Linked DNA regions of Homo sapiens. The protein of the gene in region 1 interacts with the protein of each later gene in a biochemical or structural test. Each region holds a gene or a part of one and is shown on either strand. Other genes may lie near its edges.

Region 1 (4,963 bases):
TAAGCCATGTTAAAGAAACATAAAAATACTTTTAGATACCATCCATCAATACTGAGAAGAAAGCTTAACATTTATTCCTTGTTAGTAAGTATACAGCAGCAGCTAAATTAGTTTAGCCCCCAGCGGGTGGTATAAAAGACCCATACGGATACTGACCAATTACTTGAATTAAAGGGCCATAAAGACAAGCAAGTAGAGCTCACAACTTCAATGCTAACACGGGCGGAAAAATCACTGCAGGGTGTTCTGTACTAATAGTAGGATTCCACAGACAGCATAATGACTTTTAATACTTCAACATCCTTTGAGTAACAAATGATAAATGTATTTGAGACAAAACTGCTACTACACACATTGCTATCACAAAGTTTCACAATCACTTCTGTATTTAAGAACTACTCTTTTGTAGTCTGTTTCTAAAGATTTCTCATTAATTTCATAATCATTCCAATACAAAAAATACAAAACTGGGAAACAGTTAAAATAGAATACATAATATCTTGGACTTGAAATAATACCACGTGTAACCATTATCAGCTGAAAAGCTAGATTAAAAAAAAATCAATCAAGTTTCCCAAAGTATAATGTTTGGACCTTCAAAATATTTAGTTCTAGGGAAAGATACAAGTCAGAAGCACACACAGTGACAAGATATGCCTTGAAAACATGTCTACTGTGTAGTATGATAATCGATACACCAAGTGCTTACGTTCTGTTTAGACTTCAAAGTCTGATCAACCATGAAGTCAAAGGTGTATTACAGAAACGAGATGTAAAAATGAACAAATCCCTTCTGCCCTTTTTCCTTTTGGGAAAACTGACCTCATAGGCTCGTTCCTCAACAAACACTGACATGAAGACTTACCTGTTGGCCTCTCAATTACATCTGATGTCCCAAACCCACTGAGAGTAAAACTTGGAACTGTTTTCATTAAAAAATTCACTTTACAGTAGATCTCAAGATGGACAAAGATAAATAAGGAAAGAAACAAGAAAAATGTAAAGAGGGAAACAGGCAGATATTTCAGCCAATTAGTTTAAAACACACACACACACACACACACAATAAAAAAAGATAGGTAATAATATACTGCTCACGCCAACATTTTTAACAAGGTCAGCTAATTTTTTAGGCCTTCAAGTTTCCGTGCTGTTCTAACTGTATACAGAGAATTACCACATGGTCTTCTGGTAATGAGAAATTTAAAGTTGAAAAATACTATTCTCATACCTTCCGTGAAGCTTTATTTTTAAAAGGATCACAAAAACAGAACTTTCTGTTAAAGAAAACATAGTTAACATTTTTACACTCAGCTCTGTAAAAAATTTAAATTAAAAAAGAAAAAACATCTTTGTTTTATACCTTTATTTAACAAGGACAAATTTAGTAATTATCCAACAACTCCTCAATGTCAAGGAAATTAATCTTGCCTCTTCTGATGACTGCAGTGCTAAACTTCTACCTACACTTTTAGGAAAGAGGTGAAGGCATTAACAAAAATTTTTTTTGAGACTTCAAATAGCAAACTCTCACCTAAGTTTTGGATAAAAATTAATCACCCCGCGAAGAACATGTAGAGCTTTACAGGTTTCAATGCTATATCCAAACACAAAGCTTATACTTGTTTTACACATGTTCTGCTTTTCCACCCTGCAAGTTATCAAACACACGTACACCCAAAGCCAACTTCATTCTACAGACCTGCAATTCGAATCATGCAATCACGAATTTGTTAGGGAGCAGCCAAAATCACGGTTTTGTATAACTGCTGATGAACACTTCCAGAGTAGTGGCGGTTATTTTCTCAGAGATCACAACTTTTTACCTCCCCACCCCCACCCCGTAAAAAGGTTAAGGCTTCCCGAAGTTGGCTTGGAAACTGTATATATAAAAACTTACACGTTCCCTTTCTCCTGGCCTCGGTGCTATCTTGACTCTTTTATTGTCAAAAAAGGAAGTACAAGCACGAATTAAAAGCCAAGCACCAGCCACAATGTACGCAACGCAAAGAATAAATTTCCTTTGTAGACTTAATATTTAATATTTTTTGTCGTCCTAAGTCTCCTAACATCTGCAGCAGCATTAGTGTGATATAGTTCTATAAACCAGGATGAATATATCCATTACATTTTTGCCTCGACCACTAGAAAAATTATTTACCGTAATTATTAAAGTATAAATAAAGCTCCAATAGCTAATCAAAATGGAAGCCCCGCATTAAGAAGCAGTGTAGCCTAAGGCCCCGCTGCATCCCAATGCGCGTTTCGAGGCTTACCTTCGCTGCTGCCTTTTTCGGCTTCGCTTCCACTTTTGCAGGAGGTTTCTGAAAGGCAAAAGCAGCACTGAGCGTCCTCACCCGGGACGACCCGCGGAAAACGAACGGTTACGGGGCTCGCTTTACTTACAGCTGACAACCGCGCCGATCTCCTCTTGGGCTTGGAGAAAGAAAAAGGAGAGTCAGCGAGAAGAGAAGGCAGGCCAGCGGCTCACGGGAAACCCACCACCCCCCGCAGAAGGCCCGCACTCACCTCTTCCTTGGCGGCGCCTTCGGCGGAGCTGACCTGCGGAGACGGAGACGCACGAATAGAGGCGGGCCGCAGTCCCAGGACTCGCGGGCCCGCCCGGCCCCGAGAACAATGCCCGGCCGCGTGACGTCACGGCTTCCCGCCGCCCCGTTCGAATAGCCCCCTCAGCTCCCCCGGCCGCCAAACGTTCCAGAACGCCCGCCCCCGCGGCCGCCGAGCGCTCGCCTGCCCGCCCGCCGGTCTCCAAGCGCCTCCCGGGCCCGTCGCCACCGTGGGTGCAACGGGGCCTGGGCCTCGCGGGGCCCGGCGGGGCGCCGGCGGCGGCTCCAGGGGGCGTGTGCGGGCCGCGGCCGCCGCTCACCTTCCTCTTGGGCATCGTGGCGGCGGGGAAGGCGCGTGCCGGGTGCCTGCGGGGAAGGCGCGTGCCGGGTGCCTGCGGGCCGCGGCGCGCCGACAGCCTTCGCGAAACTGGGCTGCCTTGCCGCTGCCACTCCTCCCGCCGCCCGAGCTGCTGAGACCCACAGCGGGGGCGGTGGGAGAACCGGATGGAACCGGATTGGGAGCCCGCCTCCTCCTCCCCCCGCGTCCCCGGCCGCGGGCTCCCCCTCCCCGCCGGCCGGGCCGCCCCCCACCCCCGCCCATTGGCTACGGGACTCAGCCCGCGCCCGGAATAGGTGAGGCGGGCCCTTAATTGATCCCGGACCCCGCCCCCTTCCGGGGGCCCCCCCCCCCCCCCCGGGCGCCCCCACCCCTTTCCGCCGTCTCGCGGGGCCCCAGACCCAGGCGAAGGGGGCGGGGTCCCAGTGGCGCTCCGGCCTCACGGTAGTTTGAAGCCGAGCCGCAAAGTGCGGTCTGCGCGCTGATTGGCGGACGCACGTCACGGGACCGCGGGTCCCCACCCACAATTCTTCTGGATACCTGGGCGCCTTCAGGCCACTGGTATCTGGCCCCTCCCCTCCGGGGTGAATTGGGTTCGAACATTTATAGTTCGTATCTTAGACTGGGAAGGGAGAAGGATAAGGTATACAGGAAGTAGCAAATTTCTCCCGCCTCTGTCGGCAAGAAAGGCTATCCAGGGGCTCCAGCTTCGCAGGCCTGCGTGAAGCGGGCCCTGGTGCGCAGGCGCTGCAGGAGGGCGTGGGAAGGAGAGCCGACGCGGCCTTTCTGTGTAACTTCCTTCCTTCCTTCCTTTTATTTGAGACAGGGTCTCGTTGTGTCGTCCAGGCTGGAGTGCAGTGGTGCGATCACGGCTCATTGCAGCCTCGACCCCTTCGGCTCCAGCGAACCTCCCACTCCGGCCTCCCGAGTAGCTGGGACCACAGGGCACCATTTTGCCCAGCTAACTTTTGTATTTTTTGTAGAGAGGGGGTTTCACTATGTTGCACAGCATGGTCTCCGACTCCTGGGCTCAAGCGATCCTCCCGCCTCGGCCTCCCAAAGTGCTGGGGATCCAAGCTGTGGAACTTTCTTCAGATTTCCCTGGAGGACTGCAGGTGCACGAGGGTCGTTTCTGGGCCCAGAGTAGGGCAGCTCTCAGATTGCAGCTCCTGAGAGCCGTGCGCGACCGTCTCCAGCACTCGCGGACCCCCAGAGGGCTGTTTTTTTTTCTCCATAGCATTGATTGAATATATATCCTTATACATTCCATATATATCTCAGGAAGAATACACAAGGAAGTGGTACCAGCGGTTGCCTCTGGGGAAAAGTGGGAAGATTGAGGGTAAAATTTCCCTTTTCTCGTGTGTAATTTTTTTTCACTTTCCTATCTGCATGGATTACCTTAAAAAAATTCAACATCAGAGAGTACCCAAGTTTGTGGCACAAGCATGTACTGAGCACCTGCCCTGTGGCAGGCACCGTGAAGTCCCTGGGGTAGAGAGAATCCAGGTTTGTATCCCAAGCACTGGGTCTAGTAATTTAGTGGGGAGAGAAAGTACCCAATTGGCCTAGTAAAGAAAGGGGAAGCCATCGGCAGGGGGGGTCAGCATATTTCAAGGCATGCTGACTTGCTAGAGTGTGGCAGCCCACCAAGACCTTTAAAGTGGCAGGGATGGAGATACGAAAAATGGACGTAAAGATCAGGGAAAAGAGGCAGAAAAAAAGAAGAGCAGCCCGTCATGAAGTTCGATCATTATCCAAAGATTGAGGGATACTGCAAGGTCTTAAGCAAGCGAACTCTATGCTTTTGGACTTACCTCATAAAGAACTTTCTCCCATAAGAACCGAAGATGCGCTAGGCCAGAGGTGACAACTGATGGTCCACAGATGTTTTATTTGGCCTAGTTTTTTTTAAGTTGCCAACACAAACAAATGGAGCAGCCAGAACTCAAATGAAAAACTATTTGGCAGTAGATTCCACTACTCATCAGCATGGGGGTTTTGACCTGCTCCGTTTCTGACCTGACCCCTTCATAGGCAAACCTGTGGGTCTTTTGCT
Region 2 (4,217 bases), on another chromosome or scaffold:
CAGCCTGGGTGACAGAGTGAGACTTCATGTCAAAAAAAAAAAAAAATTGAAAACAGCACGGGGTGGCAGGGGAGAAGAGGTGAAGGATGGCTGACAGCTAAGCTGGAGAGGGGCACCCAGGATGGGAGAAGGCAGAAGCTGCTGGGTGAATAAAACAGGCAGCCCCTCCCCAGCAACCCTAGCCTTGAACCCTGGGCGATGAGGTGGGGGTGGAGGGGCTGGGCCTCTTCCATGTCCTTTTGCAGGACTGCCTTCCCATAAGGAGAGGCTGGGCATCACAATCTGGCTGAGAATAAAATTAAGGAGTTTCGGGGAAATGCTGCTGTGAAGAAAGACTTGGGCTTGGAACTCCCACTCTGTCTTTTTGGGGGACAACTCCTCTTTGGCAGGGAGTAGGGCAGCTGCTTTTCTGGCTCCCAAAGCCCAAGGGTGAAGAAAAGTCTGCTGGGGAAGAAGAGAGTGGAGCTTCCTAAAAGAACTGAGACCTTTGCAAGAGTGATAGAGGATGCCCCTGGGGAGGGGGGAGGGGGAAATCAGCAGTTCATGGGGGAAGTTCAAACCCCAGAGCCTCCTTCCAAAGTCAGTCGGCTTCCTGGATTTGTTAAAATGGAATGGGGAGACACGGTAAGGTGGGAAGGGTGGGAGGGGTGGAAGTAGAGGAAGGAGGAAAGGGGACACTGGTGGAACTTAAATAAGATTTTAATTGTTTTTTGTTTTAATTTTTTATTCTAGCAAACAGCCCACTGAACATGGCACTAAACCTCTCTCCTTCCCAGGCAGGATTACGCCAAAGGGTAGGTGTGCTTTTCATTCATCCTCTCTTAGTAAGTGGTGCCTGTTCAGGGCTGGAGTTAAGTTTGAGCCCCTCTTTCCACACCGTGTCCCTTGATACAACAGCAAGACCTGGCCTGAATAGAGCTGAGAAACTCGTTTAAAACAGGCAGAAGGGGGCTGGGGCAAGGGGGACCCTGTGGGAGGAGAAAGAGAGAAGCACAGAGGGACCAGGAAGGCATGGGGGGGGGTGAGGGAGCAGCTGGTGTTTCTGTTCCTCCAAATATCTGGGCTTCCTGCTCCCCCAACCCTGGAGGGTGGGGTGAGGATGAAATTAGATACAAGGAACTCTGGGGCCCTCTGGCTGTTCAATCCAACCCTCCCATCCCCCAAACCACCAAAAACAAAAAGGAAAGAAAACCCACAGGGGCACAAGCACACCCCTAAAACTCAGAAAACTCCTTGGCACACTTCTCATTGATGGAGATCCGGAGCTCTTCCTCCTCGTAGTCGTCAAAGTTACTGGCATCCCCAGGGCCTGTGTACTTCGGGATGAAGGGAGCTTCCACCTTCTTCTCATAGATGGCGATCCAGCTGGTTGTGGCGAACCACTTGTGGTTCTTGATGTCGCCAACCCCGTTCCTGAGGTTTCCGAAGCGCTTGGTGAGGTCCACCTGCAGCAGGCTCCGCAGCAGATGCTTGAGGTCAGAGCTGAGTTTGGAGGGAAACCGCACCCTCCCAGAGACGATCTTCTCGTAGATCTGGATGGGCTGGTCGGCGTAGAAGGGTGGGAAGCCCACGGCCATCTCATAGATGAGCACCCCTAGGGCCCACCAGTCCACGGCCTTGTTGTAGCCTTTGCTCAGGATGATCTCGGGGGCCAGGTACTCTGGGGTCCCGCACAAGGTCCAAGTGCGGCCCTTCACGCGCTTGGCGAAACCGAAGTCCGTCACCTGCAGGTAGCCCTGCTGGTCGATGAGGAGATTCTCGGGCTTCAGGTCGCGGTGGATGAGGTCGAGCGAGTGTAGGTACTGGACGGCCAGGACGACCTGGGCGGCATAGAAACAGGCATGGGGCTCGCTAAACCTTCCGACGCGCTGTAGGCGGGAGAACATCTCCCCACCCGGCACGTACTCCATCACCAGGTACAGGTAGGAGTTGTCCTTAAAGGAGAACTGGAGCTTGACGAGGAACGGAAAGTCGATCGCCTGCAGGATGCGCTTCTCGTTCAGTATGTGCTCGACCTGCTTCATCTTCACCACCTTCTGCTTGTTGAGGATCTTCATGGCGTAGTGGCCGCCGGTCTCCTGGTGCCTCACCAGCATCACCCGCCCGAAGGAGCCCATGCCCAGCGTCCTGAGCCGTTCGAACTGATCCGAGCTGGCGGTGTTTTGAGCGGGGTTTCCCCATCTGTAGAGGAAATCTCCTCTGGCTTTGGCTAGGAACTCGTTCACGCTCTCCTCCTGCTCGGTGTCCTTCTTGGCGGGGGCGTTGCCCATGGCGGTGGCGGCGGCAGGGGCGGGGGTCTCGCGGCGGCGGCGGCGGCGGCGGCAGCGGCGGAGATGGCGCCCCCTGGGGCTGGCTGCGCTGGCTGCGGCGCTGCGACCCCCGCCCGGCCTCCGCTTATATTCCCAGCTACATGGGAGGCTGAGATGGGAGGATTTCTTGAGCCTGGGAGGTCAAGGCTTCAGTGAGCCAAGATCACGCCGCTGCACTCAACAATATGGATAAATCCAAAAGGCATTATGCAAGTGAGAGAAGCCAACTCTAAAGGAGACTTACTGTATGAATCCATTTCTATGACATTCCAGAAAAGGCAAAACTATAGTGTGAGAGAACAGATCAGTGATTGCCAGGGCTTGGGGTTAGGGGACGGTTGGACTATGAAGGGACAGCCTGAGGGAATGTGGGAAGTGGTGGGACATGTTTGTATCCTGATTGTGCTGGTGGTTACAATGTATTGGGTGGTGGTCTACATTTGTTTTAAAACTCATAGAACTGGCCGGGCGCAGTGGCTAAAGCCTGTAATCCCAACACTTTGGGAGGCCGAGGCGGGCGGATCACAAGGTCAGGAGTTCGAAACCAGCCTGACCACCATAGTGAAACCCCGTCTCTACTAAAAATACAAAAAAATTAGCCAGGCGTGGTGGCGCATGCCTGTAATCCCAGCTACTCGGGAGGCTGAGGCAGGAGAATTGCTTGAACCTGGGAGGCAGAGGTTGCAGTGAGCAGAGATCGTGCCACTGCACACCAGCCTGGGCAATAAGAGTGAAACTCCATCTCAAAAACAAACAAACAAACAAACAAACACCTCAAAGAACTGTATACTTCCCCCCAAAATTCAGTTTTACTGCATGTAATGTTTTATTTTAACACATACATATGATTTCCTTTCTTCTGTTTGCTTTGGGTTTAATTGCTCTTATTTCCTAAGGTGGGAACTAAGGTCACTGATTTGAAATCTTTCTTCTATTACAATCACTTAGTGCTATAAATTTCCTCCTAAGTATTATTTTTTGCAGCATCCCACAAATTTTGGTATGTTGTATTTTCCTTTTCATCCAGCTCAAAATATTTTCTAAGCTCCCTTTTCATCTTCTTTGACAGATAAGCTATTTAAAAGTATATTATTTCGTTTCCAAATACTTGGGGATTTTTCAAGAATTTTCCTATTGATTTCTGATTTAATTCCATTGTTAGAAAACATACTCTGTGTGACCTAAAATGTTTTACACTTCTTGGGGCTCATTTTATGGCCCAGAATATGATCTATCTTGGTAGATGGCCCATATGCACTTGAGAAGAATGTATATTCTGGTGTATTCTGCTGTTTGAGGATACAGTGTTCTACAAATGTCACTTAGGTCAAGTTGGCTAGTAGTAGTGTTCAGGTCTTCTATATTCTTATTGACTTTCTGTTTACTTATTCTATCAATTATTAAAAACATGCCACAGGAGTTTATGAGAAGTCAAAGTACATAGATGATGGGCCTTCCATCACTCCCCCAGGCCACCATGTCAGCCGCCCCACACACCCTCCAGAAGACTGCCAGCACTCAGCCATCACAGGGTGGGTTCTGAGCTGCTCTCCCCAGTCAATTCTGTACAAAGATTCTGTCCTACATCATAAACACTGAGCTACAGGAATACCCATTTATCCTCCTATTTTCTCTCCATCTTGCCCTTTAAGTTTGACAGCTAATTCTGCCTACCCACCCTGGCTACACCGCCTGTAGCTAGTGCAAGTAAACAACACACTTTCACCTAGCCCTGCAGGCTGAAACCAAGCAAATTGGAGAGGAATCCCTGATTACTTGACTCCAAGTAGAAGGTTTCTATTGTGACTGTGAATTCTTGCCGCTCAGTTCAGCAGATGTTGGTCAAGCAGGTGTCTATTGTGTGCAAGGCCTGGTTCCGAGTTTACGGTTTAATCTGGGGCCAGTACT

The links.
Region 2: of the proteins of HMGN1 (region 1) and PRKACG, one has a biochemical effect on the other in vitro, tested with the Homo sapiens proteins (one study listed by BioGRID).

What each region holds. Positions count from the first base shown.
Region 1 is NC_000021.9:39,346,016-39,350,978, forward strand, and holds the start of HMGN1 (non-histone chromosomal protein HMG-14), read right to left. Parts: upstream 3,074-4,963; 5' UTR 2,903-3,073; coding exon 2,888-2,902; intron 2,591-2,887; exon of another isoform or gene 2,563-2,590; coding exon 2,530-2,562; intron 2,439-2,529; exon of another isoform or gene 2,437-2,438; coding exon 2,407-2,436; intron 2,325-2,406; coding exon 2,277-2,324; intron 1,928-2,276; exon of another isoform or gene 1,364-1,927; intron 1,278-1,363; exon of another isoform or gene 1-1,277. UniProt on the Homo sapiens protein: Binds to the inner side of the nucleosomal DNA thus altering the interaction between the DNA and the histone octamer. May be involved in the process which maintains transcribable genes in a unique chromatin conformation.
Region 2 is NC_000009.12:69,011,823-69,016,039, forward strand, and holds PRKACG (cAMP-dependent protein kinase catalytic subunit gamma), read right to left. Parts: upstream 2,292-4,217; 5' UTR 2,271-2,291; coding exon 1,215-2,270; 3' UTR 682-1,214; downstream 1-681. UniProt on the Homo sapiens protein: Phosphorylates a large number of substrates in the cytoplasm and the nucleus.